Linked DNA regions of Homo sapiens. The protein of the gene in region 2 interacts with the protein of the main gene of each other region in a pairwise test. Each region holds a gene or a part of one and is shown on either strand. Other genes may lie near its edges.

Region 1 (8,202 bases), on a different chromosome or scaffold from region 2:
CATGTAATCCCAGCACTTTGTGAGGCCAAGGCAGGGGGATCACCTGAGGTTGGGAGTTCAAGACCAGCCTGGCCAATGTGGTGAAACCATGTCTTTACTAAAAATACAAAAATTAGCCAGGCATGGTGGTGCGTGCTTGCAATCCCAGCTAGGCTGAGGCAGGAGAATTGCTTGAACCTGGGAGGCGGAAGTTGCAGTGAGCTGAGACTGCGCCACTGCACTCCATCCTGGGCAACAGAGCAAGACTCCGTCTAAAAAAAATAATAGTAATGAACTACAAATGGACCCTTACAAACACTATACTGAGCAAAAGAAATCACACACAAAATACATACTGTGTGGTTCCATTTATGTAATGTGCAAGATAGACAAAACTCTATGATGTTAGAAGTGAGCATGATGGACCCCTCTGGAGAGAGTGTAAACACTGGAAAGTAGTACAAGTGAGGGTGGGGGTGCTGGGGGTGGGGAGGTACTGGGAAATATATTTCTTGATCTGCATACGCAGGTATGTGGTCACATTGTGAAAATTCACCATGTTATACACTTTGATTTATACACTTTTCTGTATGTATACTTCAACTTTTAAAAAATATATAAAATAAAAAATGAAAAACATGTAATAGAAAAGCTCTTCCTCCAGATGAGTAGGTATGGGAATTAAAATAAAAAGAAGAAGAAAGAAAGTTCTTCCTAAAAGAACAATCTCGGATACTTACTCCCTTCACTTGCTTCAGTCTATTGTATTCATCAGCAGCAGCCTATTAACGACAGACACAAAGGAATATGTTTACTGGGGCATTTTCTCTTTTAAAAGTAACATTCCTGATGTTATACTTTGGAGCTAAAAATGACAGCTTATGACAAAAATATAAGCAATTAAAAGAATGAAGTCGTAAAGCTCTTAAAACTCATGATCAGCAGGAAGGTCTGAAGGAATTCAGTGAAGAGACATTTATGATACTGTATCTTTCACATTTCACTCACATAGGCAGGTAACTATCTGTTCTGCTACTTCTCATCTCTCCTCATGCCAGTCCCCATGCTACATTGACACCAGGAAGATCTTTTATAACACAGAGCGCTCGCTGATCAGGTAATATCCCACTACACAACTGGTCTGAGCTTCCCATTAACTTCTCCCCTCATCCAGTTTCCTACCTTTCCAGTCTCAGTACCCATCATCAGCAACTCCTTTAAAAACTGAGACATGTTAAATGCTTCAGGATTTCAATCATGTTTTCCTTATGGCTGTAATCATGCACCTCCCCGCACCCTTCTGTCTGGAAAGCTCTTAACGATTCCCTCACTGTGAAGCCTCCAAAGACTTTATTTCTTCTATGAGCAGTTAGTTATAGTGCTTTCTACACATGATGCAAATACAGCATTAATCATACTGTCTAAATTGTTTAGATGTCAGGTTTTTTTTCTTAAAATATAAGCTCTTTTAGGGTGGGGACAAGATTTTATGTCTCTAGCTCCAGCATTTCCACATCATCAAAGAAAAATAAGTGATCAATAAATGTTCACTAAATTAAGAAAGATCTATAACACCCTATAGAAACCATAAAAGAAATACATAAATCTAACTATATAAAGATGTGAATACGTCAAAACTAAAAAGTAGATCACCTCAACTGAAAAATGGCAGAATATTTAATGAGATGTGCATCAAATGAGTCCTGTATTGTATCAAGAGGGAGACACAGTTGGTGCAGTCTCTCTGGAGGGCAATTTTGCAACTTTGCAAAGGTACGTACCCTCTGACTCTCAGCAATTTCACATTCTGGAATTAGTTTTAGTTAGATAAGCAGGCTGGGCACTGTGGCTCACACACGTAATTCCAGCACTTTGGGAGGCCAAGGCAGGCAGATCACCTGAGGTCAGGAGTTCGAGGCTAGCCTGACCAACATGGCAAAACCCCGTCTCTACTAAAAATACAAAAATTAGTCAGGTGTGGTGCCACATGCCTGTAATCCCAGCTACTCGGGAGGCTGAGGCGGGAGAATCACTTGAACCTAGGAGGCGAAGGTTGCAGTGAGCCAAGATAGCGCCACTGCACTCCAGCCTGGGCGACAGAGCAAGACTCCGTCTCAAAAAAAAAAAAAAAAAAAAATTAGATAAGTAGACAAGAGTGCAAAAACAGAGAGGTTCACCAGTATATACTGGTACTACTGGAGTAGGGGGAGACATACTTAAATGTCTATCCATAGAAAATGACTCTTAAATTATGATACAACCATAAATTTGAAAGTTGTTTACCTAATTTTACACATAAAAAACTTAAAAGTAAGTAGGTCTTTATTATTGATATAAAAAAAAAAACTTGCTGTTAAGAAAAGCCAGAAATAAGCAGTGCAAGGAAGTTTTTTTGTTTGTTTTTTTTTTAAAGATAAAACCCCACAATAAGAGTATGTCAAAGGGACACGGGAAGCAACTGAAAGTTCCCAACCGTCAAAGCGAGAACAATTAGAGCTACAAAATAAAGCAGCCTTGGATTATAATTCACAGTATAAAACAGGTATCTGTAAAGTCCATACTTACGTAAGTGATTGACTGATCAATAAAGGAACAAATAAACAAGAAGAGATTAATCTCCCTCTAAAAGGTGGTGTAACTACATTAATTTCAGTATGTATACAAAATACAGTATGAAAAGGATGGATTGAAAAAAAAATCCAGTAACTTTACATGGACAAATTCTATCTCAGCCAGGTGATCAAGGGAGGGAAAAAAAAAACCCATAAACTGTTGATTTAAAAGACAGGAAGAAAATAAGTGAAACATGGAAGATGATGTTTCCTTAAAGAAAGGTGTATGTGCCTTGGTGACTCCTGCTTGGAGAGATTGTTTTAACTAATATTTTGGTGATAAGGATTTCTTGATGGTAGGATTTAAGATGATTTCTTTTTCTGTATACAGTTCTGTGTTACTTAAGTTCTTTTTTTTTTTTTTTTTTTTTTTGAGATGGAGTCTCACTCTGTCACTCAGGCTGGAGTGCAGTGGCGCGATCTTGGCTCACTGCAAGCTCCGCCTCCTGGGTTCACACCATTCTCCTGCCTCAGCCTCCCAAGTAGCTGAGACTACAAGTACCCGCCACCATACCTGGCTAATTTTTTGTATTTTTTTTTTTTTTTTAGTAGAGACGGGGTTTCACTGTGTTAGCCAGGATGGTCTCGATCTCCTGACCTCATGATCCGCCCACCTCGGCCTCCCAAAGTGCTGGGATTACAGGCATTAGCCACCGTGCCCGGCCGCTTAAGTTCTTTTCTACAGAAAGAATGAATGGCTTTATAAATAGGAAAGATAATAAGGCTATTTTATTATTATTATTATTAATTTTTGAGATGGAGTCTCACTCTGTCGCCCAGGCTGGAGTGCAATGGCGCAATCTTGGCTCACTGCAACCTCCCCCATCCCAGGTTCAAGCAATTCTCCTGTCTCAGCCTCCCCGAGTAGCTGGGATTACAGGTGTCTGCCACCATGCCCTGCTATTTTTTGTATTTTTAGTAGAGATGGGGTTTCACCATGTTAGGCACGCTATTCTCTAACTCCTGACCTCAGGTGATCCACTTGCCTTGGCCTCCCAAAGTGTGGGGATTATAGCCATGAGCCACCATGCCCAGCCTGGCTATTTTATTTTAAATAGGAAAGGATAGATGTACATAGAATAGTGCTTTGTAGGGGCTGGGCGCGGTGGCTCACGCCTGTAATCCCAGCACTTTGGGAGGCTAAGACGGGCAGATCACGAGGTCAGGAGATCGAGACCATCCTGGCTAACATGGTGAAACCCCGTCTCTACTAAAAAAAAAAAATACAAAAAATTAGCCGGGCGTGGTGGCAGGCACCTGTAATCCCAGCTACTTGGGAGGCTGAGTCAGGAGAATGGCGTGAACCCGGGAGGCAGAGCTTGCAGTGAGCTGAGATCACGCCACTGCACTCCAGCCTGGGCAACAGAACGAGACTCCACCTCAAAAAAAAAAAAAAAACAGAATAGTGCTTTGTAATTATTAACTATTATACATTAGTACAATCTTCTATTAGGAAAGAATTTCATCCAAAACCCAATCTCAACTATTCTTCAATGAAACTGCAGTTTGATAACTACTAGCACATTTTTATCAACATTAATATAAAGGATGCTGTACCTCCACAGATTAGATTCAAATTCTGTTTAATATATAAATATCAGGTTGAATTTACCATGTACTCTTCACTTTCTTCTCTATAGTCATCCAATTCTTTATCCAAACGGGAGAGTTCTTTATTGATCTCATCAAGTTCTGATTGTAAGCTCTTGTATTCCTGTAGGCCAGTGTCAAAATTCCTCTTGTACAGTTGTCTTTGTTGATCTGAAGTGATAGGTGGATATTCCCTAAAAGGTGAGAGAGAAAATGACTACATATGTATCCTTAGCAGACATAAAATTCAATGCTCCTTCCTCAAAGATAATAAAGCTGGTTGGGTATGGAGAATGACATTTTCTTGTTTCGTTTTTGTTTCTTATGGGGAAAGAGAGAGAGAATACAAATAAGTTCTATTAAGAGTGACTATATATTACTGCTCATTTTTTAAAAAATAAAAACTATGCCTACGTAATTTGCAGAAATAATTTTGAAAATCATTTACAAAATTGAAGGTACAAGTCATAGGAACTCACTTATTTCCCATACACAATATCAATAATGGACTACTTATGTTTATAAAGTTTTTCTTTTCTTTTTTTTTTTTTTTTGAGACAAAGCCTGCTCTGTCACCCAGGATGGAGTGCAGTGGCACAATCTCGGCTCACTGCAACCTCCACCTCCCGGGTTCAAGCGATTTTCGTGCCTCAGTCTCCACAGTAGCTGGGATTACAGGTGCCTGCCACCACGCCCGGCTAATTTTTGTATTTTAGTAGAGACAGGGTTTCACCATGTTGGCCAGGCTAGTCTCAAACTCCTGACCTCAGGTGATCCACCTGCCTCAGCCTCCCAAAGTGCTGGGATTACAGGAGTGAGCCACCATGCCTGGCCTGTTTAAAGTCTTAAAACTGGAATTCTGGAACACAAAGTCCGCTTTGATCACCACAGTGGCAGCACAGCTGACTGGAAGTGGCTGTTTCCTGCTACCACCCATAGTTTTCAGACTGGTTTATTTATTTTTTTGCTCTTGTTTTTCCGAAGTGGAAATAGCTTATCTACTTCTTTCACAATAAAAATAGACATTAAAAATGTACATGTATAAAAACATGTGCTCACTGTTAAAATAATCTGGCAATTCATTAAAGTATAAAGAAGAAAAACTGAAATTTTGTATCACATCTATTTCTCAATATACCAGCCACTCCTTACATAGGAAGACGATGCCATTAACCCATAATCCATAGAGAAAATACTCTGAATCCTTTCACAGGACTGGAGTTTCACAATGATGTGGAATTTCAAATTTTAGATCTAACAATCTAACATCTTCATTTTACAGAGGGGAGAAATTTAAATGATTTGATCAAAAGGGAAACAAGAATTTCAGATTTTGAAAATTTTCAGGCTGGGCATGGTAGCTCACCCCTGTAATCCCAGCACTTTGGGAGGCCGAGGTGGGTGGATCACCTGAGGTCAGGAGTTTGAGACCAGCCCAGCCAACATGGTGAAACCCTGTCTCTATTAAAACTACAAAAATTAGCCGGGTGTGGTGGCGCATGCCTGTAATCCCAGCTCTTCGGGAGGCTGAGGCAGGAGGATTGCTTGAACCTGGGAGGCGGAGGTTGCAGTGAGCCAAGATCGTGCCACTGCACTCCAGCCTGGGCAACAGAGTGAGACTCTATCTCAAAAAAATATATAAAGTTTTCAGTTAAATCTTCCGTGATACAAGTTAGGTGAATATTTTACAGATAGATGGCTAAGCCAGGCCAAAAACTCTTGAGGGGAGAGGGGAAGATAAAGTATCAGAATCATCAGTGAATAGGGGATCTCAAGCTACCCATGCCCCGCCTATCATTCCTCACTCTCTGAGAAGCGATGTTTTGATTACCATTCACATTGCAAATGTTTCTGATGTGCGTCTTAGTCCTCAGAATACTTGGGCATAGGAAGGCTACACATCATACACAAATACATTTGGTGATGGTGGATGGATTGTAACAAAACCACCAAAACACAAAGAAACTTAACCACAACTGTGGCTGAACACTAAATTGTTACCTCAATTGTTTACGGAACTCTTTGGATTAAACTTTAAAAGAAACTCTCGTCTTATCATTTTAAGCTTAATTTAAAAAATAATTGCCGGCCAGGCGCGGTGGCTCACTCCTGTAATCCCAGCACTTTGGGAGGCCGAGGCAGGGAGATCATCTGAGGTCAGGATTTTCAAGATCAGCCTGGCCAACATGGTGAAACCCGTCTCTACTAAAAATACAATAATTAGCCGGGCATGGTGGTGGGCGCCTGTAATCCCAGCTACTTGGTAGGCTGAGGCAGGAATTGCTTGAACCCGGAAGGCAGAGGTTGCACCGAGCCGAGATCGTGCCATTGCACTCCAGCCTGGGCGACAGAGCAAGACTCCGTCTCAAAAAAAAAAAGTAATGCCAAAGGAAAACCATAGCACTGGTTTGGGAATTTTATAATTAGTAAAACAAAGTTCTTCTATACCTGGATTTTATTTATTTGAAAGGCCTTTGGTTGTTTTTTGAGATAGGGTCTAGCTCTATCACCCAGCCTGGGGTGCAATGATGCAATTATAGCTCACTGCAGCCTTGAACTCCTGGGCTTAAGCAATCCTCCTGCCTCAGCCTCAGCCTCCCGAGTAGCTGGAACTACAGGCCCACACCACTATGCCTGGCTGGTCTTGAACTCTTAGCCTTAGCCTCCCAAAGTGCTAGGACATCTTTCTTCCGTGACTATTGGTATAAGAAAGAGCACTGGTGAAGTTCACCAGCCACACTGTGGAAAGTTCAAAGTGGTTACTGCCAAAGTTCAAAGACATGGTTACTGCCAAACATTCTCTCCACTTCAAACTTTGTCACAAAAGGGTGCTAAGGAAAAAACCAGCCAACACCACACAAAAAACTGTCTCCAGTCCTGGTTGGCAAAGAATGAAATTACACCAGTGACCTCAATTTGGGAGGCAATAACTCCAACACCTGGTTGGTCTCCTTTAATTATCAGAAGGAGCACGTGGGCCAGGAAAGGAGAGCTGAGTCGGTACCTGATCCAGTCCTCCTCCAGCTCATCACAGGACTCGCCGCCAGTTGTGTAGTCTGTCTCATAGTGATCTTGCTCTGTTCTCTTTGACCTTCCTGCTCTTCCCTTTGCAGGTGCTCTTTTTGAAGGTGTCTCAAAGTTACCACCGCTGCTGTAACGAGGCTGCCTGAAGTCATCCACAGGCGAAGTTAATGGAAGCTCCTGAACCACTTCAGGAACCCTAATAAAAACAGGCATCATTGTTCAGTACACTACAGCCCTTTGCCAGTGCACTGTAATCACAGAGCACAGCCATAATAAACACCAGCAGACATCTGCACGCAGGTGCACTCACGCGAGGACTTCAGATGTTCAACACTGAGCAGATGCCTCGTTTTCTGCATTCAATTTGACAGCAGTTCAGAGTCCTCTAATACACACAAGTAGTAGGTTCCAATTTAAAGGGGAGTAGCCATTTTTATACCTTCTAAGTACAATGGATCTCAGATTTCATTTTAAAAAGTTCAGGCTGATCTATAAGAGGTGTTTACTTGACCTGTGCCAGGGACTTACTCTACAAAGGCTGTCAGGAAAACAGTGATCATTCTTTTCTACAGGCTCTTCTAGTTCCCTGGAATGCTGCATGGGGAAGAATGCACACATGCTCTTTGTAATATTGATCTTATACTACCATATATCAATTATCATATTAAGATAAAATCTTGCAAAATAAACTAAATATCTAAACTAAAAAAGTAAAAAGCTTTACATTGCAATAAATTAAAGAGTTCCTTTAGGATTCTTTTTAAAATTGCTGTTAATCCTGAAGCCACGTAGAATGAATAGAAGGGTTACCATTACACACTTACTATTTTCTTCTAATACAATTATTTAAAGTTGCATCACAATTGCATGTTTCGGACACAAACATGAAAATAACCCTAACTGAGGAATAAAATACCAAAGTTGAAAGTGGGAACTACTTCTGAGTAAAAGAAATACGAAGTTTCATTTTCTTGTAGAAAAGGGCAAGAACAGAAAT
Region 2 (5,959 bases):
TGTAGGAGCCTGATCTGGCCCCGCTCACCCTAATCCCCTTCTTCTGCCCCTCAGTATCTTGGCTGCCCGTGTGCCAGGGACTGCATGCCCTCTGCCACTGGGGGCGTCTGGGGAAGAGAGGTCCCAGGTGGAGGTGGCAGGGCAGGTGAGCGTGACCTCGTGACCATGGCAGAAGTGGGGGTTCGAGCGTGGTTAGAGGCTGCTGGAGGGTGTGAAGGGGGACGCGTTGACATGATCACTGGCTGCTTTGTGGTGAGTGGATTCTAGGAGGTAGAAGTAGAATCAGGGAGCCGAGCGAGGAGACTCCCTGAGTGAAGATGGAGGTGGGTAGGGACTGTGTGAGCTCCGCAAGCAGCACGGCCCCTGGGCCAGGGCCCCTTCCTCTCTGCTCTCCGGGGTCTGGGCTGCTTTCCGGACAGCACTGTCCCGTGGCCTTTGCTGACTCCCTAAGGGCCCCGGGAGCCCCAGGATAGCAAAGGACCTGTGCCTGGCCTCACCCCCATTCGCAGCTCTGCAGCCCTCAGGTCCTGGTGCCCTCAGAGACCTGGGATATGGGAGAGGGGCTGCAGCGCTGGCTGCTTCGGGGGTTTTCCTGTTTAAAGGTCAGACACACACACACACACACACACACACACACACGTAAAATTCTATACGTGTCTAATACATAGACACTAAAATACTGTTTTCCAAATTTTTTTTTTTTTTTGCGACGGAGTCCCACCTTGTCGCCAGGCTGGAGTGCAGTGGCACGATCTCAACCCACTTCAACCTCCGCCTCCCGGGTTCAAGCGATTCTCCTGCCTCAGTCTCCCAAGTAGCTGGTACTACAGGCGTGCACCACTATGCCCAGCTAATTTTTGTATTTTTAGTAGAGACGAGGTTTCACCATGTTGGCCAGGATGGTCTCAATCTCTTGACCTTGTGATCAGCCCGCCTTGGCCTCCCAAAGTACTGGGATTACAGGCGTGAGCCACCGCGCCTGGCTCTGTTTCCACATTTAAATGTGATGCCACTGACTTCATCAGACTTCTCCAAGCATCCTCTCTGTCAAAGCCTTAGTTGTCACCAGGGCTGTTATTTGGAGACATCCAATAGTTCCCCAGGCCCTGGGAGCTCCATTGTCATCTGTGCTGTTTGAGATAGCACATTTTAAAAATTCATGGTGCTGTCACTGAAAACCTCATCTTAAGCCTCACACGTGCTGTTTGCACAACAGTAGACCACTGGTGTCTTCTGAACACCGTGATGTAACCACTTACTATATTGTTTTTCATTTTTTTTTGGAGTTAATAGTGTCACGTGCTTTCAAAAGCCACCAAAGAGGTTCACTGAGAAATCTCTGCACCTCCCTCCCCAGGTACACAGCCTCTCCTAGATGGGCCAGCGTGACCGTCACCTGCATGTCCTTTCAGAGACCTGTGTATAGGGGCAGAGAAGCTTTCCTTTCTCTTTTGACCAGAACTTTCTTGGTAACCTTGCTGTTTTCATGTACCAGTGTGTACTCAGCTGCCCCGTCTCATGGTGGGAGCGTGGTGTCCTGATGCATGGGTAGACCACAGCTTAGGTGACTTATGCCCACCTCACACACTTCCAGGCTGTCGCCAATCTGTCACCATCACAGTGAATAACCTTGTATATTCACCATTTTGCAGTACAGATGTGGATATATCTGTAGGACAGATTTCTGCAATGGAATTGCTAGGTCAGAGGGTATGGCTGTAAACATTATCTGCAAATAAGAAAAAGACAACCAATCCAATAAAAATGTAGGTAAAGGGTATGAACAGTTCATAGAAAAGGAACTGCAAATCGCTTGCCAGCATATAAAAATATGCTCAGCCATTCACTCATGATAAAAGAGGTGTAAATTCAAGCTACTCCGAGACAGTGCCACATGCCTATTGGCAACACTAAAGTGGGAAAGACTCGTGTGTTGAGGACGCAGAGTCACTGGGGCTCTCATCCCCTGTGTGTGGGTGTGGAATTGGCACAGACACTTTGGAACTCAGGACAGTACCTCCTGCTGCATCTGCTGGGCACTTCCCGGTACCCAGCCTTCTACTCCTCAAAAACATGGACGCGTGCCTACCAGGATATCCCCAAAATTACAAGGCAGCTTCATTCACCATGGCCAGATTCTGGCCGTATTGAAGGAAAGGCTGCTCAGCAGTGGGATGGCGGGTGGGCCGCGGAGGCTTTCTGTCGGGGACTGTGCAGCGTGGGTGGGCCACACACATCAGGCTGGGCCAAAGCACCCGGCCGCAGAGCACCTGCCGCACGGTGCCATGGGCCGGGGGGGTCACAGCGAAAGCCAGTCTCTTGAGTGGGATGCCAAGTGGCCTGTCTCTCCGGGCAAGACTGAAGGGGCAGAGGCAGCCTCTGCATCATGTCACACAGGTGTGCGTGATTGTGACGAGTCGTGCAGCGGTGTGTGTGCACTCCGGATGTTATTCTTCCGTTTAAAAAGTACGGAAAGGAAGGTTTCTCAGCTGTGAGGCATTTTCACTGAGCAGATTGAGAAAGCCCCAGAGCCTGAACCATGCCGTGCTGCCAGTGCAAAGCAGGGGAAGGCAGCTGGCCTGGCACAGGGCTGGTGGCAGGGCAAAATGGGGCCCTCTGGCAGGTGGCTGAGATCTGTCTGTGCAATTGCAAATGCACGTCCTTGTGGCCTATAAAATTGGAGTGTATTTTGGGGTCTTCGTGAACCCCTCACCCTGACACCCACTGCATCCATGAGTCAATGACAGTGTCTGTGTCTCTGCAGCCAAGAAGCCCTCCATGAGCAGAGCAGCTACATCCTCTCCAGTGCAGAGACGCCTGCCCGGCCCCGAGCCCCGGAAACTTCTCTCTCCATCCACGTGGGGAGCTTCAGATAACCGCGCCGCTGCACGGCTCTACTCCCGATGAACTCTCCGGCTGATGCCACAAACGTGGGTTTCCTGGGCATGGGGACTGGCTGCCTGGCGCCTCCAATCCCAAATCCTCTGCTTCCTTTGAGCACAGGGACGGCTCCTCTGAGGCCTGGCCAGTGCATGTAGTCACTTAGCTCTGCAACACGTGGCAGCCACGGGGGCTGGTGCAGCTCTGGATGTCGCCCACCCAGCTGCCAGTAGGTGCTGGGCTCTCTCACACAGCACCCGGCCCCAGCTGCCTTTTTTTTTCTTTTAACCAGAAAATGCACAACGTGTGCGTGAACCGCAGGTATGGAGGCAGCGGCATGCCGTTGCTCCGCTGTGGGAGGTGTGTGGGGTCAGGCCAGCCACTTTCCTCCGTGTTCAGATGACTCTCGTTCGCCCTGACCGGCTTCTCACAGTGTCTCAGGCCACTGCGCCACCGCGCTGGTGCTGAGCAGAAGCGGGCAGAAGTGGGGTCTGCTTTCAGGACTTCATTTCCCCCACTCGTTCCGGCCCCGCATGCTCCACGTCTGCCCTTTGGTCTGAGTTAAAACTGCGATGCTGAAAAGTGCGAGCTCTTTCCACGAGGAGGAGCCACACAGGGTGGCCTCCGAGGGTGAGTCGCTCTGCTAAGCAAGGGCAGCCGCTGCACGTCAGCCCGCAGGCCAAGGGTCCAGCTTATCCTGGGTGCTCTGTGATCAGAAGGTCCTTGGATCCCGAGGACTGCAGCTGCTGCCGTCCACAGCGCCTCAGCCTCTCTTCCTGTGTGGAAGCGGGGCAGGCAGGGCTGTGGCAGACAGGCCTGGCATAGCCCAGGTTCCAGGTGTCCTGGGCAGCCTGACCGGTTTCCTGAGTAGCCTCAATGAAAACACCTGAGAAAAAGAAAATGTAAACTAAGGAAGGGTTTTCCCACTTAATCCAACCCAGATTTCTATTCAACTTAAAGGATTTAATTGGCATTTGTGAGAAATAATAGTACCTGTGTCACTGAGTTGATTGATTTGGGACATAGACGGTTGACTTTCCCAGACAGCAGCTTAGCGGAAAGCAGCATCCCGAAGACGGTGTCGCATGTCCTGAGCCTGCTTGTCACCTGGGCCTCACGGTTTCTCGTCAGCCCCGTCACTGATGGGAAGCAGCACTGAAGTGTGAGGGCAGAAAGGACACCGCTGGAGTCAGGCGCTCCCCTGCCTGTGACCCTTTTCCAACAAGCTGATGCTGAGCCAGCGGCCTGCTTTGTCCCTCATACTCCTCCCAACAGTCCAAACCCCTACCAGACAGAAGCCACGTCGCTTCTGCACACGTGTCTGAGAGCGTCTGCCATAGACGTCTGTGCGTTTCCGTGAAGCACTGCGCCCTAAGGACCCAACTCTGACTAGCAGCTGCCTCCCACTCCCAAACACTAACCCCGCTCAGGAGACTCGCACTGGGTGTAGACTGCGTCTTTGCAGAGGGAGATGATAGAGGCTTCTGATGACGCCAGAGCTGTAAGTGTCGTGACGAGCTGGGCGCCCAGCCCTTCTTAAGCTGTTCTGTTTCTGTGGCTTTAACTGACATATTTCTGTAGCATCTGCCTTCATCTCATCTCAGCGTAATGAAATATTAATGAAATCGCTGAAAAGCTTTGCCTTCGAGAGGCCAGAAGCCTCGCGGAATGTCTGCAAGTCCAAAGACGCGTGTGGGTTGTGCCCTGAAGTGCCGTCCAGCAGGCGCGTGCGGCCGGGCCGGCCTGTGCGTGTGGCCTTTGCCTTCTTCCCTTTCTTCCTGTTTTCTGTTTTTTTAATTTGGGGATTGAGAAAGCTGTACGATTTTGTTAAAGAAAAAAATAAACCATTTTTTAAAGTTGTAGCCCTTAGCTGCTTTTGGTTGCCGGCTACTTCGTGCCCAGCTTGCTTAAGAGAGGAACTTTTGGCCGGGCGCGGTGGCTCACGCCTGTAATCCCAGCACTTTGGGAGGCCAAGGCGGGTGGATCATTTGAGGTCAGGAGTGTAAAACCAGCCTGGCTGACATGGTGAAACCCTGTCTCTCCTAAAAGTACAAAAAATTATCTGGGCATGGTGGCGGGCGCCTGTAGTCCCAGCCACTCGGGAGGCTGAGGCAGGAGAATCGTCTGAACCCAGGAAGCAGAGGTTGCAGTGCGCCAAGATCGTGCCACTGCACTCCAGCCTGGGTGACAGAGCGAGACTCCGTCTCAAAAAAAATACATAAATAAAATAAGGAACGTTTGTGGCCCTTTTTCCCAAGCCTGCTTCAGATGCTAAATAAACAGTTTATATTTAGAAATACTGCAGCAGTGCTGCTTTAGAAATAACAAGTTTGCTTTGGTTTTAAAAAGTTCAGACTCATGGGAAAAATGCACTGGAAGAAACTGGATGTAATCAATCTGGTTTTATTTTCCTTCTATGGAAATACGTAATGGTGGTGTCGTCACAGAAAACATACTTATTCAACAGTGACTTTTTCTAGCCAAAAAAGGGAGGGGCAAGAATTCCCTTGCAAATCATTTTGGCGCCATCGATGTGAGTTTAACCTGCAGAACAGACTTAACAGTGAGGGACCAACTTACAACAGCCCCTTCACCCTACAGGTCCATCATTCTGTTCTGTTCTGGATAACGCACCCACCCAAAGCATGGCCATACCAGGGTTCAATAAAATCCATAACAAACGCATTCTGGGTGAAGCGGTGACCTCAGTATCCAAGTAAAGAGAGACTGCTTCCAGCTCCCTCTGGCCGCTGCCCTCCCCCACTCCCACCACACACGCCCACGTGCTGCCATGCGTCCAGGTCCCTGTGGCAATGGCTGCAGAGTGTGGCAGACAGGGCCCTTCATCTGCAGGTCCTTGCCCCGACTTGGGGTGGCAGGAGCAGACACGGCAATCTCCCGGCTCAGGAAACAAGAGACCACCAATGAGCTCACACCAGGCTGGGGCGGGGCCAGACGAGTGCTCAGGGGACAGTGGTGCCTCTGCCACGCCCCAGTGTGCTGCTCTGAGGTGGTTCTGTCTCCGCAGGCACCTCCCCAGGTGCCGAGACGCCACCAGCAGCTCCATCACACGAGGCAG
Region 3 (8,520 bases), on a different chromosome or scaffold from region 2:
CTGTTTCCTGCATTCCAGTGCAGCCCTCCTTGGATGCCCCAGGTTCAGCTCCAGTGGGCTGAGGTGTGGCCTGGGCTGTGATGTCTGTCCCTCCGGAAGGCACAGGCAGTTAACCTCAGCAGCATCCATGTGGTGCCGACCTCTGTCAGTACATGAGCTGTGGGGGTGTGGCTACCTCCACCTTGAAGGATGGAGCTGCCCAGGGCCTTGGGTATGTGACCCAAGCAGAGGGCCACAGTGAGACCAAGCTACTGCAGTGAGTCCCCAATAGGGAAATGGCTAACAGAGCCATGGGAGCCGGGCACACCAGACTGGGAGGGCCACCGGTGTGCAATTCGAGCCTGGTAGAGCTGCAGGGTGGGGTCCCTCCAACTGTGAGAGCTGCAGTGGGGTTGGGCCATCCAAAGCCATGGCCAGGGCCACTTGAAGCCTTGGGGGCCCAACCTCTGTTCAGCAGAGCTTCACAAGTGGGACCTTCATCCCAGTGGGCCCAGAGGGAAGAGCTTTGAGTCAAAGAAAATTAATCTGAAGATTTAGAACTTACTTGGAACCTGTTACCCATTTCTTTTTTCCCATTTCTTCCTTTGGAATGCAGTATTTATCCTATGTCTGTCCCACCATTGTATTTTGGAAGCATATAATATGTTTGATTTCACAGGTTCATAGATGGAGGGGAATCGGCCGCAGGATGAACTGTACCTTGAGCCTCAGATTTGATTTTGATGATCTTTAGATGAATTTAGGCTTTTGCTGGAATGAATTAAGACTTTTGAGGCTATTGGGATAGAATGAATGTATTCTGCATGTGAGATGATATGAATTTTACAGGATCAGGGCAGAATGCTATGAACTCTATGTTTGTGTCTCCCCAAAATTCATATATACATTTTTCTTTTTGTTGAGACAGGGTCTCAGTCACCCAGGCTGGAGTGCATTGGTGCAATTACGGCTCACTGCAGCCTCGACCTCCTGGGCCCAAGTGATCCTCCTACCTCAGCCTCCCAAGTAGCTGGGACCACAGGCATGTGCCACCAGGCCTGGCTAATATATATATATACATTTGGTAGAGATGGGGCCTTGCCATGTTGCCCAGGCTGGTCTCTAACTCCCAGGCTCAAGTGATCCACCTGCCTCAGCCTCCCAAAGTGCTGGGCCTCAAAATTCATATTTTGAAAACCTAATCACTAATGTGATAGTATTAGGAGATGAGGCCTTTGGAAAGTGATTAGGTCATGAGGGTAGAGCCTTGTAAAACATGTCCAATAAAGCTGCCTTGCCTCTTCCACCACATGAGGGCATTTCTGAGAAGGTTCCATCTATGAACCAGGAAACGGGCCCTCACCAGTCACTGAAACTGCCAGCACCTTAAACTTGAACTTCCTTGTCTCCAGAAATGTGAGAGAGAAATTTCTGTTTTTCATAAACTACCCAGCCTACGGTATTTTGTTACAACAGCCTGAACAAACTAAGACTTCTGTTTTAAGGTATTTTTGTTCAGGTCTAACTATATTGCAGTCTTTTGTTTTGGGAGCATATAATTTGCACCGTGTCTTATATGAAGGGCATGCAATAGACTCATTAAATGAAGTGATTATTATCTTGTGACAGACCTCAGTAACATATACAACAAAGCCAGTAGGAAAACATCACAAAATGCATTAGACCTGATTTTATGGAAGGGTGAAAAAGCCTTTTGAAATTGCATTGGAGCTAAACTGTGAGTGCACGCAAGTAAAACTAGCAGTCAGCAAGGCTATAAATTATCTACCACTTACCGTACAAACACAGTCATTTCGGCTCTATCTTCAATGAAGACATCTGACTCTAAAGGCCTGGGTGGATCAAATTGCTGTTCAGAGGGAATATACAGGGAAATGGTAATGGTAGACTCACTAAAAGGACCTGAACCAGGCTCCACGTAGCTTGTCACTGGAGCTGTCATCTTTATTTTCATCTCTGTGACATAAAAATGAAAGCAAATTTAGTGTATTTTTGACAGCTTTAAACATTTAACCTATTCTTTTTTGATCTGGGTTCCTTGATTTACTTCACATTGTTGACATATTTACCTTTAAGATAATTTTCATCTTAAAACAGTAAGGCCAAAATTACTCAATTGCTCACTGCCCACATTAAACCACTTTCTGTAATACTGATATTCTGGGTTAATAAATTCTTAATTTTTAGAGATAAAAGGGGAAATTAGAGATTACATGGTCAGTAAATTATTTTTTCTTACCATTCAGAAAATGAGGTCCCACAGGCTAAGAGACCTGCTAAAATATAAATAGCAGCAAAGCCAGACCAAAAGCTATGACTTGATGCTTCTAATCTTGGTACCTTCTTGCCTCCTGACGTCTCTGATCCTACCAGTCACCAAATTATCTTGAGGTGTTAGCCATAGAAAAGGACTTATCACGAGTTACACCAAACCCCAGTTCATCCAGCAAAATCAGAGAACAGAGGTTGAAAAGTAATACCCAGTGTAACCCTGGTCCTGAGGAGTCTTGTCTGAAAACAAGACAAGTCTTTGATGACTTGCTTATTTTTCCATTATAAAGGATATTTCTTTAATAAGCTAAAACTCAATAATAAGCCCGGGGACTCTTTCACAATATGCATAATTACAAGGAAAACTGCTTTTACCTTTCTCGTTTTTGCCTTGAATGTAGCTGTTCAGTTTCGTAAAGCCCGTCTGGATGGCTGAATCCCAGTCCATAGACTCCACGGACGTGCTGACCCACTTGGCTGGTCCATAGTGTCGGATCTCATAACTTCCGGGCTAAAGTGGAACAGAGAAAACTTCGAGAAGCAATTCTAAGAGGGTAGGAGTGAGATGCAAAAATACCGGTGCCATGATCTCGGGTCGACCTGGAGCCGTCCTGTCTAGGGGCTGCACCGCCCCGGGGTCCGGCCTGAGGTCCCCGCTCCTTAGGTCTGGGAGGTTCCCCTCCACGAGGTTCCCCTCCTTGCGATTAGGGACCGCAGCGGCCCCAACCCCACACGCTGGGGACTCGATTCACACTTTCAGACAAGCATCTATTACACCCCCTCGGTTCGGAGGGTTCCACCGCGCGTTCTGGGACGTAACCAGTTCCTCCCCGCCCCACCACCCCGCAAAGACAAGAAATTGAGATGGGACCTGCACTGGGGGTAGCGGGGAGGGTAGAGCTAAATGACCGGGGTTTCTCGTTTGCGTAGCATAGTGGGTAGGGACTGGGACCATTTAAAAAACTGTACTTTTTACTTAACTCTATGGGACCCGCTGGCCTCACTGCAAATCAGCCGGAAGGCGGGCCCAGCCCCTCCGCTCCCGAGTCGGCGCCTACCTGGGGGCCGGCGTCCTCCGGGGCCTTCCAGCCCGGCGTCTCCACAGCTTGGGCCGCCGCGTCCTCGGCCGCCCCGGGGTCTGGCTGGAGCGGCTCGGCCATGGGCGGCGCTGACGCTCTGGGAGCCTGGTCAGCCGCGCAGAGGCCCCGCACCCCGGGCCGCCCCGCCTGCGTGTGCGCGCCCCGCCGAGGCCCCGAGTCCCCGCTCCGCAGACCCGGTCCCTCCTCCCGGCCGGGCTGGAGACCCGAGCCCACCCGATGCGTCTGCCTCTGGACCGCGAGGGGGCGCCGCCACCAAGGCGGGGCCGGCTCACGACCCCGGACAGCTCCGGCCGGAGTTGCGCGTCCTGCCCCCGCCCCTCCGCGGCGACAGGGAGCCGCACCTCGCTTCGGCCCGCCTTCTTTTGAGGCACTTCCGCCCCCGCCCCGCCTTTGTTTTTGAAGGAAAGGCACACACAGGTGGCCCCGCGGGCAGTAGGGGGTGGCGCTGTTTCTGTGCAACCGGTTTGGGAACCTCTGCCGCGGCCCCGCCCGCGCTGGGAACCGCGGGCGCTGAGCCGCCTCGAGGGTGTCCCAGCGCACCGCAGGCAGAGAAAGGCAGGAGGTGGCGGCTGGCGACCCGACCCCCGCGGCCCCTGCCCGCACTCCTGGGGCTCAGCCAGGGCGAATGGCCGTACTCATCCCAAGAAGTTGTCCTAGGTCCCAGACAGCTTTCAGGGTCCCTTGCGGAGGAGGTGGTGGGACCACAGACACATGGAGAGAATCTGGAACTGTTCTGGTTTCTGAACTTTTCCCCGACAGGACCCCAGACCCTCTGAGTCATCCCCGCAGGCTTAACGAGACTCGGGGAGAGTTAGTGCCGAGGCCAGACACTAGTGCTTTTCAAGAATTTTGGTTACCAGGGCTTTCCCGAGCCGAGTGGGGTGCGGCTCTGTTCCCCAGCACCCCCTTTCCGCCGGCCAGGCCGACTCCGCGTTACTGTCCCCTGCGGCGGGGACCCGGCACGGCTCCGGCGCCCCCCAGAGGACTCCCATCGTGGGCAGCCAGAGCTCCGAGGCTCTCCGGGGCGACGTGACCGCCGCAGAGGCAGCAGGCACTCCCCACGCGAAAGCCAACGGACAGGAGGGTGGCCACGTGAAAAGCAATGGTGACATCCCCCAAGGGTGAAGGGGAGTAGGCCCCTGTGAACAGAAGAGGCAGCCGGGACCATTGGCAATGCCATGGAGCCAGCACCCCCTAGCCAGGGTGCTGAGGCCAAAGGGGAGGCTCCCTCCCTCGCAAGGAGACTTCCAAGAAGACGAAATTGCCTTTCAAGGCCAGGCACGGTGGCTCACGCCTGTAATCCCTTCATTTTGGGAGGCCAAGACAGGGGTGATCGCTTGAGCCCAGGAGTTCGAGACCAGACTGGGCAACATGGCGAAAACCCGTCTCTACAAAAATACAATAAAATAGCGTTGATAGTAGAGTGGAGAGCATAGCTGCCTTCCAAAAAAAAAAAAAAAAAAAAAAAAGCTGAGTGTGCTGGGGTTGTGATCTCAGCTACTCGGGAGGCTGAGGTGGGAGGATCGGCTTGAGCCTGGGGAGGTCGAAGCTGCAGTGAGCCGAGATTGCGCCACTGCACTCTAGCTTGGGTAACAGAGTGATACCCTGTCTAAAATAAATAAATAAATAAATAAATAAATAAATAAATAAATAAATAAATAATTATCTTTCAAGAAGGGTTTCTAAGAGCAGCTTGTCCTTCAAGAGAAATGGGAAGGAGGGTGGGGTGACTCTTCTGCCTCCTCACCTATGGAGGAAGAACAGGAGTGGGGGAAGATCAATGCCTGCAGCGACAAGGGCGCTGCCCAGGAAGGGAAGGCTGTTGCCACCCCTGAGAGCCAGGAGCCCCAGGCCAAGGGCGCAGAGGCAGTACTGCCTCAGAAGAAGAGGCAGGGCCCCAAGCTACAGAGCTGTCCACTCCCTCGGGGCGGAGAGTGGCCCTACACCAGCCCACGCTGAGCAGAATGAGTAGCTGGGTGGGCCAGGTGGGTGATCTCTAAGCTGCAAAAACTGCTGTTCTTGTGAGGTTACTGCCTGGACCTGGTGCCCTGGCTGCCCTCCTGTGCCCAGAAAGGAAGGGGCTATTGCATCCTACCAGCTACATTCCCTTTCCTTCTCTCCCTCCTGTGGATTCTCCAATCGGCCATGTGGCTTTCCTCGTAAGGCCAGTTGAAGACGGTCCCCCACAGCCTCCCAAGTTAGATTAGTGATATGAAATGTGCCTTTCCCTGGCCCTGCCTCCTTCCCTGTCCCCAGCCCTGCAGAAGGCAATTTTTGGTTTTCTTCCCCAATTCTTTTCCAAGTAGGTTTTGTTTACCCTACTCCCCAAATCCCTGAGCCAGAAGTTGGGTGCTTAAACTCCCAAACCTCGAGGGTCCGGCCTCCCCGCTGTTGAGTTTTTACTCTGGTGCTGTGCCTAGTGGCACCTGGGCCGGGCAGGGGGGCACTGCCCTGCCTAGGGTTCTATTCAAGTTCCAACCTTCAGCTTGTGAATCAACTGTGTCTCTTTTTTGACTCGGTAAGCACATGTTAGGCTTTGGGGCCAGGGAGAGGTCTGTAATGTGAAATAACTTCTTCTTGCCTTTTCTTCTCTCATTTTTATGAATAACTTTTAATGGCCAAACCCCAGATTTGTATTCTTTTTTTTTCTAACTGCTACAACCATTCTCTTCCACCTGGTTTTATTATAACAATTGGAAAAGGAATAAATATCCCTTAAATTTTTTTTTGTTAGATGTATTCTTTATTTTTTCCAAGAGATTTATTAAGATATAATTCATATACCATATAGTTCACCCATTTAAAGTGTACTAGTCAATGGTTTTTAGGATCTTTAGATCTGGGCAACCATCATCACAAGGACTGGGCAACCATCATCACAAGGTGAGAACATTTTCATCACTTCCCACCCTTAAAGAAACTCTATAACCTTTAGCCACCACCTCCCAATTCCCCATTCCCTATGCCTAGACAACTACTAATTTGTTCTCTGTCTCTATAGTTTTGTCTATTTGGAACATTTCATATGAATGGACTCATAATAGTACGTGGTCCTTTGTGACTGGTTTCTTTAACTTGGCAAAGTGTTTTCGAGGTTCATCTGTGTTGTGGCAGGTACTCCATTTCTTTTTATAGCTGATTAATAGTCCATTGGATAAACATTTTATCAACTTATCAGATGAGGGACATTTGGGCCATTTTCAACTTTTGGCTATTATAAATAAAGCTGCTCTACATGTTTATGTACATGTTTCTGTGTGCATGTATGTTTTCATGTCTCTTGGGTAAACATCTAGGAGTAGAAGTTCTGGGTCAAATGGTAACTCTATGTTTAACTTTCTGAGAAACTGCCAGACTGTTTTTTCGCCACTTCACATTCTCACTAACAAGGTGTGAGCATTCTATTTCTCCACATCCCCATCAACACGTGTTTTTATCTGGCTTTTGGATTATAATCATCCTAGTGGGTGTATGCTATGGTTTGAATGTTCATCTCTTCAGAAACTCATGTTGAAACTGAATCCCCAATAGGGCAGTATTGAAAGATGGGGCCTTAAGAGGTGATTGAGTGATGAGGGCTCTGAAATTAATCCATTCATGGGTTAATGGGTTAATGGATTATTGGGTTAGCACGAGAATGGGACTTGTGGTTTTATAAGAGGAAGAAGAGAGACCTGTGCTAGCACACTGAGCCCCGTCACCATGTAATGCTCTGTGCTGTCACGGAACTCTGAAGAGAGTCCCCACCAGCAGGAAGGCCCTCACCAGATGTGGCCCCTTGACCTTGAACTTCCCAACCTCCATAACCATAGGAAATAAATTCTTTTTATTTATAAATTACCCAGATTCAGATTTTCTGTTATCAGCAATAGAAAATAGACTAAAACAGTGCACCTGGTGCTTTAAAATATTTTTTGAGATATGATTCACATAGCATCAGTCACTATTTTAAAGTGTACAATTCAGTGGTTTTTAGTATATTCACTGTGTTGTACAAACATCATGACTACTATCTAATTCTAATTATAGAACATTCCGTCAGTCCAAACAGAAACTCCATGTAGCTTAGCAGTCACTCTTCATCTCCCTTGCCCCAACCCCTTGCAGCCACTAACCTACTTTCTGTCTCTATGGATTTGCCTCTTCTGGATATTTCGTACAAATGGAATCATGTATTATAATATGTGATATTTAGGCCAGGTGTTGTCACTCACGCCTGTAATTCCAGCACTTTGGGAGGCCGAGGAGGGCGGATCACCCGAGGTTGGGAGTTCGAGACCAGCCTGACCAACATGGAGAAACCCCATCTCTACTAAAAATACAAAATTAGCCAGGTGTGGTGGCGGACGCCTGTAGTCCCAGTTACTTGGGAGGCTGAAGCAGGAGAATCGCTTGAACCCGGGAGGCAGAGATTGCAGTGAGCCAAGATCCCGCCATTGCACTCCAGCCTGGGCAACAGGAGTGAAACTCTGTCTCAAAACAAACAAACAAACCAACAAAAGTAATATGCGATATTTTGTGACTGGCTGCTTGCTCTTAGTGTAATGTTTTCATCTATGTTGTAGCATGTACCAGTACTTAATTTTTTTTTAATTGCCAGAAATACCCCATTGTATGGGCCTAGTGCTTCTAAAGCAATTGATGTCTTCTCTTTTCCTTGCCCTTTCCTGCCCCAACAACTGTGCAGTGGCCTGAGGACTCATGGCACTTTCTAGTGGTTCTGTCAGATCTATTATTATGCAGAACTAAGTTCGATTTACTTAGTAAAGGCTAAATAATGAATTTTTAACTTATTTTAAAAAATAGCTTGTTTCGTTTAACTAGGTAACAGATGTGATCCATTGCTTAGGTGACTTTGCAAAGTTGAAAATATAACTTTATCACAGGTTTTTTTTAAAAAAAGAAAAAGGATGTAATTTACTTCATTGCTTAAGAAATCTGTTATTTTAATCTATAGAGTATCTTTTACATTTATCAATGTCTTTTTTGGAGGGCAATATTTTATTTGCAGAAAATCTAAGGCTAAATTTGGAGACGTTTATTTTTCAGGGTTTGGAGTATGCAATTAGTGAAGGTAACAGAGGTGACTACACTGCATTATCTGTATTTACAAGGCAGTAACTAGTCATATAAAAGAACAGAGGAAGGA
Region 4 (9,084 bases), on a different chromosome or scaffold from region 2:
TAGCAAAAGGCCATCTCACCTTAATGCCAAAGAGTTTTATGAAAGTTTTATGAAAGAGTTTCTGAAAAGTTGTTATAAGGAAGAGTGAAATAAATACTGTGCTGGGGGTCATAAATGACCTAGGTAATTAACAACCTGATTAGATAGGGAAAAACTGAACTTTGAGATGATTGAGCAAAAGACAAAGAGAAAACACTGACAAGGCAGTTAACAACCCAATTCAAAGACATATGGAGAAATGGGGGTTGGTGGACACTTCAGACCACTGTGTAACTCTTTCCTGTCAGCTAAATACTCGTCACTGAGTGTGAAATTATTTCCTGTTCACTCTGCCTCTGCAACATCCTAACTGCATGTCCATATTTCCTCAGACAAGGAAATCCTCCAGTTCTTCAACATACTTCAAGCATCAGCTTTACTCTTTAGTCAAAGGGGTATTTTTAAGCCCCACAATTTGGATACTATTGAATTTACTTACCCTGGATACTTGAATATACAAGGCACTCTAGTGTTCCTAGAATACACAGAGTTCAGATTTCTTAGTGATGAAGAGCATCTAAAAAAATTACCACAAGGAAATGAAATGGGACCCATGACTCTTTCATTCTCATATCTGCTGCACCCCAGTGGCTGTTGCTCCTGGACTTCATGGTGGTGCTTTAAAACTATTTATACCGTCAGATTTGGAGCATCTTAAAAACCTACCACATCTCTCTCACAAACTGACATCTAATACTCTGATTCTATGAACAGACTAAAAAAACCATTGGAGTGTACATTTTAAGTGGGTGAATTGTATCTATGTGAATTCTATCTCAATAAAACCGTAAAAGAATTGAAAGCAGAGTCTAAATAAAGATATTTGTACACCCATGTTCATAGCAGCATTATTCACAATAGCCAAAAGGTAGAAGCAACCCGAGTGTCTATCAACAGACGAATGGATAAACAAAATGCAGCATACAATGGAATATTATTCAGCTTTAAAAAGGAAGGAAATTCTGACACACACTACAATGTGGATGAAACTTGAGGACATTGTACCAAGTGAAATAAGCCAGACACAAAAAGACAACAACTCTATGATTTCACTTACGTGAGGTACATAGTGTAGTCAAATTGATAGAGACAGAAAGCAGAATGGTGGTTGCTAGGGGGTGGTGGGGAGGATGAATGGAGAGTTGTTGTTTAATGGTATAGAGTTTTAATTTTGCAAGATGAAAAGAGTTCTGAAGATTGGTTGCCCAACAATGTGAATACACTTAATGCTACTAATCTGAACACTTAAAAATGGCTAAGATGGTAAATTTTGTGTTATGTGTGTTGTACCAGAATTTACTGAAAGTAGGGAGGCTGTGGTTCTTGTGTACCATTGCAAGGCACTACAGCCTGGATTCCTGTGAAATTCCAAATGAGCAATGATAGAAGAGTTTTCAGAACCTAGTATAGTTTTAGAAGAAAGGAATGTTCATACTCTACTTATTATTTATTTCAAAGTTCTCTGGGATGAGAATTATAAGCCAGTTACTCTAGACTTTTCTGAGATTGATACTAATATACACCTATATTGATACTCATATATCTATTGATTCATTTATTCCACAAAAGTTGATTGGTGTCTAGGCATAGTGCTGGATAATGAGGAAACATTGGTAAGACATTACTACCCCCTACCCCCCTAGGTCTTACAGTCTGACAGATTGAATCAATTGACTTGGCCTTGTAAAAAATCTCGAATATTTGGGCTTTTCATAGGACTTTTCTTTAATGTTACTTCACACAGTCATCCATAAATGCTGCAGTGACAACAGCAGCAACAACAACAACAATCTCTTGGTGTTTTTATGTACATTCTTGTATTTGGTTTGATTTTATTTGATTCTCAACTTCAATCTTCTCTTCCTTTTAGAATGCAGGTTTCTTGAGAATAGGCCAGTCTTACTCACCTCGTATCCTCTAAAAAGTCTCCATAGCTAACAAAATGCCTTATACACATAACAGCAAAACACTTTTGAGAGCCATGCTGAGAAAACATAGCTCTATCTCTAGACCAAAGTAATAACTACTGATTTTGGGGTCCTGAAACTATTCCAACCACCAAAGCAGATTGCAATATGATAAGGAAATATCTGTACCACAGTTTGGAAAATATATTTTAAAATGCCAATCGTGATTCTTCCAGTTGCATTGTGTAATGTGGTCTCTTTTTATGAAAGTTCTTTCTCTATAATATTGCTAATTCTACAGTAAGTGTAACTCTATAATATGTGAGATTTATTTGCATGTAGAAGTTTGCTTATGACTCAGACCTCATGTTATGCATTAATAACACATTTATCTCATGGCCTGTGGATTGACTTATATAGATATCACATTCAAACCAGAAGAAATATCTAGAGTTGGGCAGGGAGTAGAGAATAAGCGAGGCTGTTGTTAGAAGTATTGACTGTAACGATCATGAATAGTATTGTTGTTACATTGCCTATTTTAAGATCCTACAATCAAAGGCCTCTAAACCAGTTATGCATTCAGATCTAGCTATTTAATGAAAACCTATTCTGTACAAAGTGCCACTCATATATTATTTCATTCATGCTTCATAATACATTTCTGATAGAGGCATTCCTAGTTCATTTTACAGATGGGGAAACTGTGGACTAAGGTTGAAGAACTTCCCAGTGTTTCACAGCCTCCAAGTCCAATGCTGTTTCCACATATAATACTCAATTTTGAACATTGTATTGTGTTAGGAGACTTAACAAAAATAAAAATAAAAACAAAAACCCTGCAAGCAGTGTATGTTGGTCAAGAGTTGCTGTTTCTCTAAGGTCCAGTAAGCCCTTAGCTTTGTTTTCCTGAACTTTGAGTTTCAGTTGCACATCAAGCCCCAGAGGTGGGCAAATGCTGATGCTACAAGAACAGCAGCAAGTGGCAGCACTCAGGGCAGGAGTACTCATGCTGTTCTGACATTCCTAGCCAGGCTGTTGTTCACATGGAGCCATGCCCAGCTCACCAAGGACACCTACGTCTGCTGACGCAAGTCATTCCTCCCTGATTAATGAAAGTTTAATGTCCAAGGTTATAAACTGCTGAGAAGGCAATAGGGAAAGAGCTAATTTATGAGTCTGCAGTTACCAAAATGTAAGCAGCTCTGCTTTAGATCACTGTCTTGGAATGAGACAAACTCTCCAGCTACCTGTACTGTGACTCTAGACAAGTTACTTGCCCTCTCTGAACCAGAGTTTTGTTATGCATAAAATGGGGGTAATAAGCGTTTCTTCAGAGAGTCGCTGATATTGGAGATAATTTATGAAAAGAACCAGGTACATCATAGACTCTCAAAAAAAGGATAGCTATTATTGTTGTATAACAAGAATAATTAGTACTAGTAGCATCTCTCAGCAGGTAGAATGTTTTAGCTATGGTTCTGACTACCCCAGCCCTGACTCCTAACAACTTTCATTACACCCACTCTCTATTCTTTCATCACCATCCACCTCTTGTTCCTCCATTCTCCTTTACCAAAAATCATAGAGGATGAAACCTCACATAGCCCCAAAGCTGGTCACATTGGTCTGACAAATATGGTAGCAGGTGCTTCAATGAGCCCAGTTGAAGATGGGGAAACCAGGAAATGTGCCATCAGATACTAAGTGGAGTCAAGGGAGCTGATAGGACCTTTCCCTGGTCTATCCCTCTACTATCCTCAGGACAGGGCTTGGTGGGAACTTCCCTAGCCAAATGAGCCTCAATATTGTGTTTCAAATACTTCAATTTCCTTCAATATTCACATTCAGTGATGAATACTTACTGTTCTCAGAAGCCTTTGTTTTCAGGAAAAACTTGATGGTGGCTGAAAACATGATGGCTCTGCTTGGAGGGAAATGCTTGTTTTCCTCTCTCTAAGTATAAATGCTCATTCACACCTTTCCTGGCTTTTTGAGAGGTGGCAAAATGCCCAAGATTGATTGCCAGTTACTTGTGTTACCTGAATGAGGCCCTTGTGAGTCTCTGATCTAGGAAAAACAACCAAAACTAAACCAAAACTCTTTTTAGATCACCTAGTTCCGTTTATTTTTTCCTTCATTTTGTTGACATTTCACCTTTTCATCCATAAATTCTGGTGTTACACTCTGCACAATCAAGCATCTTAGTTTTGTTTTCCATTTTATGAATTATTCCAGAGGAACATGTTCATGAGAATTTACCCTTTTTTGTAATTACGGTCATTCCATCACTTTTAGATTTCCCTCATTTATTTGCCTCATTCATCATTTGCCTCTGGAAGCATATAATATTTTTATTTACCTTTTCTGGAATTAAATTTGGGTTTCATACTTAGGAAAAAGCCCTGCAGAATGAACCCATACCCAGACAGTACCATATTTAGGGGTGTTGATGGCTTAGTTCAATCACTTTAATTCTAGTTTTTAACCAAATTTGAAGACAAAAGTACAAAGGTTAAAAGAGAATGGGAATACAAAACAATGATTTCTGGCATTAAATACATCAGAAAGCCCAGCTAGGTTTTGGAGGACTGGAGAAGATGGGAGAGACAATGATTTTTAAAAACAGAATGTTTTGAATTTTATTTCCAATTTGGACAAAATTCACACATGGGAAATTCAAGGATTCAGAATCAATTTCTTTTATTGAAAGATTATTTAAATTTAACTATAAATTATAGAATAAATTGTTGGAATTGACTACTAATGATATACTGAAGATAAATAATGAAAATATAGCATTGATTACCTAATTTGGAAATAATAATTCTTGAATGCCTACTGCGTACAGACACTATACAACTCACTTAATGCTCCTGTGAAATTGAGATCCCACTTTACAGAGAAGAAAATAACGGCTCAGACAAGTAAAAAACAAAACCAAAAACCCGTCACCAAGTTCATGTGTTTTGTAAGTGTTACAGCTACACTAACATTCTTCCTAGTATCATTTAATGGACCCTAGAGCTCCATCATTGACTAGCTGTATGACTTAAGGGAACCTCCTTATCTTCCTTGCCTTAGTTTCCTCATCTGTGAAATGGAGGGTCTGGATTAGGAACTCCACGGTCTAAAGACATTCCTTGCAGCTTTAACATTCTATGAGCATAAGGAGTATATGGGCATGATTTTAAGGACTGGTTGTTTATGAGCCAATCAGAGGTGTTGAATAAACACCTCCCTACTAGGTCAAGGTAGAAAGGGGAGGGCAAATATTGGAAAAAAAAAACATGATGAGAAGTCTATAAAAATTGTGTGCTACCAAAGATCTGTCTTATTTGGCAGCTGCTGCCTCACCCACAGCTTTTGATATCTAGGAGGACTCTTCTCTCCCAAACTGTAAGTAAAAAAGCTTCCTTTGTATACCTGGACAGCACCAGTGAATAAGGGGTTAATAATACTACTAAGCTTATAGAAGGGAAGATTGGTTTGCCTTTGTTTTCGGGAAAAACTTGATGGTGGCTGAAAACATGATGGCTCTGCTTGGAGGGAAATGCTTGTTTTCCTCTCTCTAAGTATAAATGCTCATTCACACCTTTCCTGACTTTTTGAGAGGTGGCAAAATGCCCAAGATTGATTGCCAGTTACTTGTGTTACCTGAATGAGGCCCTTGTGAGTCTCTGATCTAGGAAAAACAACTTGAACACTCCTATCGTTAGGTTCTAATCAGTTTTTGAGATTCCTGTTCATTTCAACTCTCAACTCTCTTTTCATAACAACTACTTATTTTAGTGATTTATTTACATATCTACTGCCTTATGTCATTTTCTACATTCTCTTCCCACACCTACTGGTACCGACACTGAAGTTTCTTTGTCACAGAAACAAACCCTTGGAGTATTTTGCCCTTCGCCTTCACCCACTGCTCAAATGAGGAAATGCAACAGGGTTGGAAACTTCACAGAGCATAGTCATCATTTGATTATGAATTTCCAAACCCTTCATGTTTGACACTTTCTAGAACATTTCCTGCTGGCCCCAGACACTGTGAAGACCCTACAGCTTAAGATAGTAGGAATCAAAAGGTTGTGTATTTTGATACATTTGCTCTACTATCTGAAAAATAGGCATTGTGAGAATATGTTGCCTTTTTAAAAAATAACTTCTCTTTAAATAGTTACCTAGGGCTCCATTAGACAATTTGGATGCACCAGAGCTTGAACTCTGCTACCCTGCTATTCATCACTTTAGCTAAGGCACATCTGGGTAGCACCCAGGCCCAGGTTAGAGCCAGAGATACTGGGGCAGGGAATGGGGAAATGTTGAATATCTAAGAGGTCCTTTGGCTTCATTCCAAGTTTAGAGGAAAGAGCACCATTCAGGACTCGTTCTGGGCTGCTCCGCGTGTGTTAAAGGGCACTGGAAATCAGGCTGTCCTAGGACTGCCCTAGATCATCCCACTGCACTTGTCACTGGGACATTGGGGTGGATAATGAAGCTATTGGCAGCTTTAAGCATCATGTACAAAAGTGCTGCATGCAGTGCCTAGAAATCATGGGCTATCAATAAATAAGCCTCCTCATATTTGCCTTAAAAATCCATTTGTCTTGTACATAGAGAAGCAAATGAACTTTCTGCTGCCTTCTATTTCTCCAGGAATTAAATATCCATGTTACAAATAATTATGTTTTCACAGAACATCTTCAAGGAAGGCAGAAAGAACCATACCATAGGATTCTACCTGCTATTTTGCTGAAGGATTAGAAATAGAATTCTAAGTCATAAGCCAATAGGATGTAACTTGCAATCCTAGAACATCACAACTTAGAAGGCACATCAGACATAGTCTCTCTGGCTTTAGTTTCCTCATCTCTAAAGTGACAGGGTTGACGCAGGTATCTCTGAGGTCATTTGTAGCTCTGTTTTTCTGTGGTTACCTTCTGTTGTTAATACAACTTTCCTCCAGATTTATATACATATTACTTGTTACACATATGTAATAAAGTGCGTGATAAAGAATGTATAAAATGAAATGTGGCCGGGTGCAGTGGCTCATGCCTGTAATCCCAGCACTTTGCGAGGCCAAGGTGGGAGGATCGCGTGAACTCAGGAGTTCAAGACAAGCCTGGGCAACATAGCAAGACTTTGTTTATACCAAAAATAAAAAAAAAAATAGCTGGGCATGGTGGCAGGCGCCTGTAGTTTCAGCTGCTTGGTGTCTGAGGTGGGAAGATCACTTGAGCCCAGGAGGACGAGGCTTCAGTGAGTCATGATTGTGCCAGTGCACTCCAGGCTAGGCAACAGAGCAAGACTCTGTCTCAGAAAATAAAAAAGAAAGAAAGAAAAAGAAAAGAAATGTGAGAATCTCTCCACCCTACCCCATTCTTCAGAGGTAACTCCAGAGTTGTTACTCTTTGTTTATATAGACACAAAAACAGTATGGGTATATATCATTTTTTAATTAAAAAATAGGAGGACAGTATATATTGCATACTTCTCTGAAACTTGTTTTTCATTTAATAATATAATGTGAACAACTTCCATCACACTGAAAAAAGTTGGCTTGAGATCTGAGAGAGCAGAGGCTTAGGAGTACGGAAATCGTTCTTTGTCATTACCCATCCCAGGTTGTCCTCCTGTCTCCTTGTGGTGAACATTGGCCTGTGACCCTGTTTTATGATTAACAGAGAGGTGACATTTGTGCTAACGTGGTACAGACCTTTAATCCCACTGTAGAAGTTTAACTCCCTGTAAACAGTATTAGTTTGAATTATCATTTTCACTGTTATTCTGGTTGAGTCAGCATACCCAGATTGAAGAAAATAGTTTAGTAATAGGCAGTAAACAGAAAAATGGAGGTCACTTAGGTGATTTTTTTCATTAAAAAAAGAGAATTAGTAATACATTGCATTTTATAGTGCTTTGTAAAGAATCTTCATGTTTATCATGCAATTTAACAAATATATTTTGAGCAACTACAATGAGCAGGGTGCTCATAGATGGCATTTGAGTTACCTGGCAAAGAGACAACCAGAACAGTTATTATCACCATTTAATCCATAGTAAACTGAGACTCAGGAAGCTGCCTGACTTGCCTGAGGTTCCAGCTAGATTAGGCAGAGCTGGTTCTTAAAACTAGGTCTGTCTGATCTGCTAGCAGCAAACCTCTACATAAATGTGTCAGATGTTTATGAATAAGTAATGTCCATGGTGTAATCACCCACAGCGTAAGGTACTCTGGGGTGTCATCAAGGACATTAGGAGTCATCCAAAGGCCATTTTTTTCATCAAGCTCACTCTTTCCCTTGAATGGAAAGGAGTACTGCCCCTTATCTCAACTTGATGCCTTATTAGCTATTTGTCCTTGGATAAATAATTTACACTCTCTTATATTCTTTCCTAATCTATTAAATGGGAGGGGAAAAGAGCCCAACCACCTTCTGGGATTATTTTCAAGAAAAATTATATAGTGCATGTAAAGCCATTAGCAGAGTGCTTGACAATACATGATCACTTGTTGTTATTATTATTATTGGGCTGATTTTCCCTTTTGTTTCATTAAGAAAATATCTTTCTTTCTTGGTAATTGTCAACTCCTTTGTACAAATGCCTAAACTGAGAGAGAAAGTTTGCACCTTGCTCTGAAGATCACACCCAGGTTGGCTTTTTTCAGCATGATGATCTGGAGGCCAGGTCCAAAGCTAAAAGTCTTTGACTCCAATATTACAGCTAATATATAAACAGGGCAAACATGCTCTGCTGGTGGCTGGGACATAATGGGCCTTAGAAGGTCATCTTCTCTAGAAATTGTTGCCCACTAGCTTGTCCTATTACCCCAGTAACAGCATTGCAGTTTCATTCTTTTGGGGTAAGACAAGAACCTCTGTTGAAATGGAGAGGCAACAATGAGATCATCAGTTATACCTTCTCATGAATTAGCTCAGTGGCTACTGACTTTTTATATCAAGGGACAGAGTACTGACAGCCTACCCTGAAGGGATGCAGAAAATGTGGAGAAATATATTTGTCATGAGGACAGGACTGGATAGGGACTCTGCTTCATCCTAGCTGGGACCTTGAACAAGTCAGTTAGCTTCTCTACGTCTTAGCTTGCTCATTAATTAATGAAGATAATACC

The links.
Region 1: the proteins of USP40 (region 2) and OCLN interact in a two-hybrid assay, tested with the Homo sapiens proteins (one study listed by BioGRID).
Region 3: the proteins of USP40 (region 2) and HEBP2 interact in a two-hybrid assay, tested with the Homo sapiens proteins (one study listed by BioGRID).
Region 4: the proteins of USP40 (region 2) and ALDOB interact in a two-hybrid assay, tested with the Homo sapiens proteins (one study listed by BioGRID).

The regions. Positions count from the first base shown.
Region 1 is NC_000005.10:69,544,103-69,552,304, reverse strand, and holds part of OCLN (occludin), read right to left. Parts: intron 7,402-8,202; coding exon 7,186-7,401; intron 4,376-7,185; coding exon 4,204-4,375; intron 762-4,203; coding exon 720-761; intron 1-719. UniProt on the Homo sapiens protein: May play a role in the formation and regulation of the tight junction (TJ) paracellular permeability barrier.
Region 2 is NC_000002.12:233,474,309-233,480,267, reverse strand, and holds the end of USP40 (ubiquitin carboxyl-terminal hydrolase 40), read left to right. Parts: exon of another isoform or gene 1-145; intron 146-2,764; coding exon 2,765-2,876; 3' UTR 2,877-4,742; downstream 4,743-5,959. UniProt on the Homo sapiens protein: May be catalytically inactive.
Region 3 is NC_000006.12:138,399,407-138,407,926, reverse strand, and holds the start of HEBP2 (heme-binding protein 2), read right to left. Parts: upstream 3,705-8,520; 5' UTR 3,432-3,704; coding exon 3,330-3,431; intron 2,783-3,329; coding exon 2,647-2,782; intron 1,957-2,646; coding exon 1,776-1,956; intron 1-1,775. UniProt on the Homo sapiens protein: Can promote mitochondrial permeability transition and facilitate necrotic cell death under different types of stress conditions.
Region 4 is NC_000009.12:101,431,970-101,441,053, reverse strand, and holds the start of ALDOB (fructose-bisphosphate aldolase B), read left to right. Parts: upstream 1-5,279; 5' UTR 5,280-5,345; intron 5,346-9,084. UniProt on the Homo sapiens protein: Catalyzes the aldol cleavage of fructose 1,6-biphosphate to form two triosephosphates dihydroxyacetone phosphate and D-glyceraldehyde 3-phosphate in glycolysis as well as the reverse stereospecific aldol addition reaction in gluconeogenesis.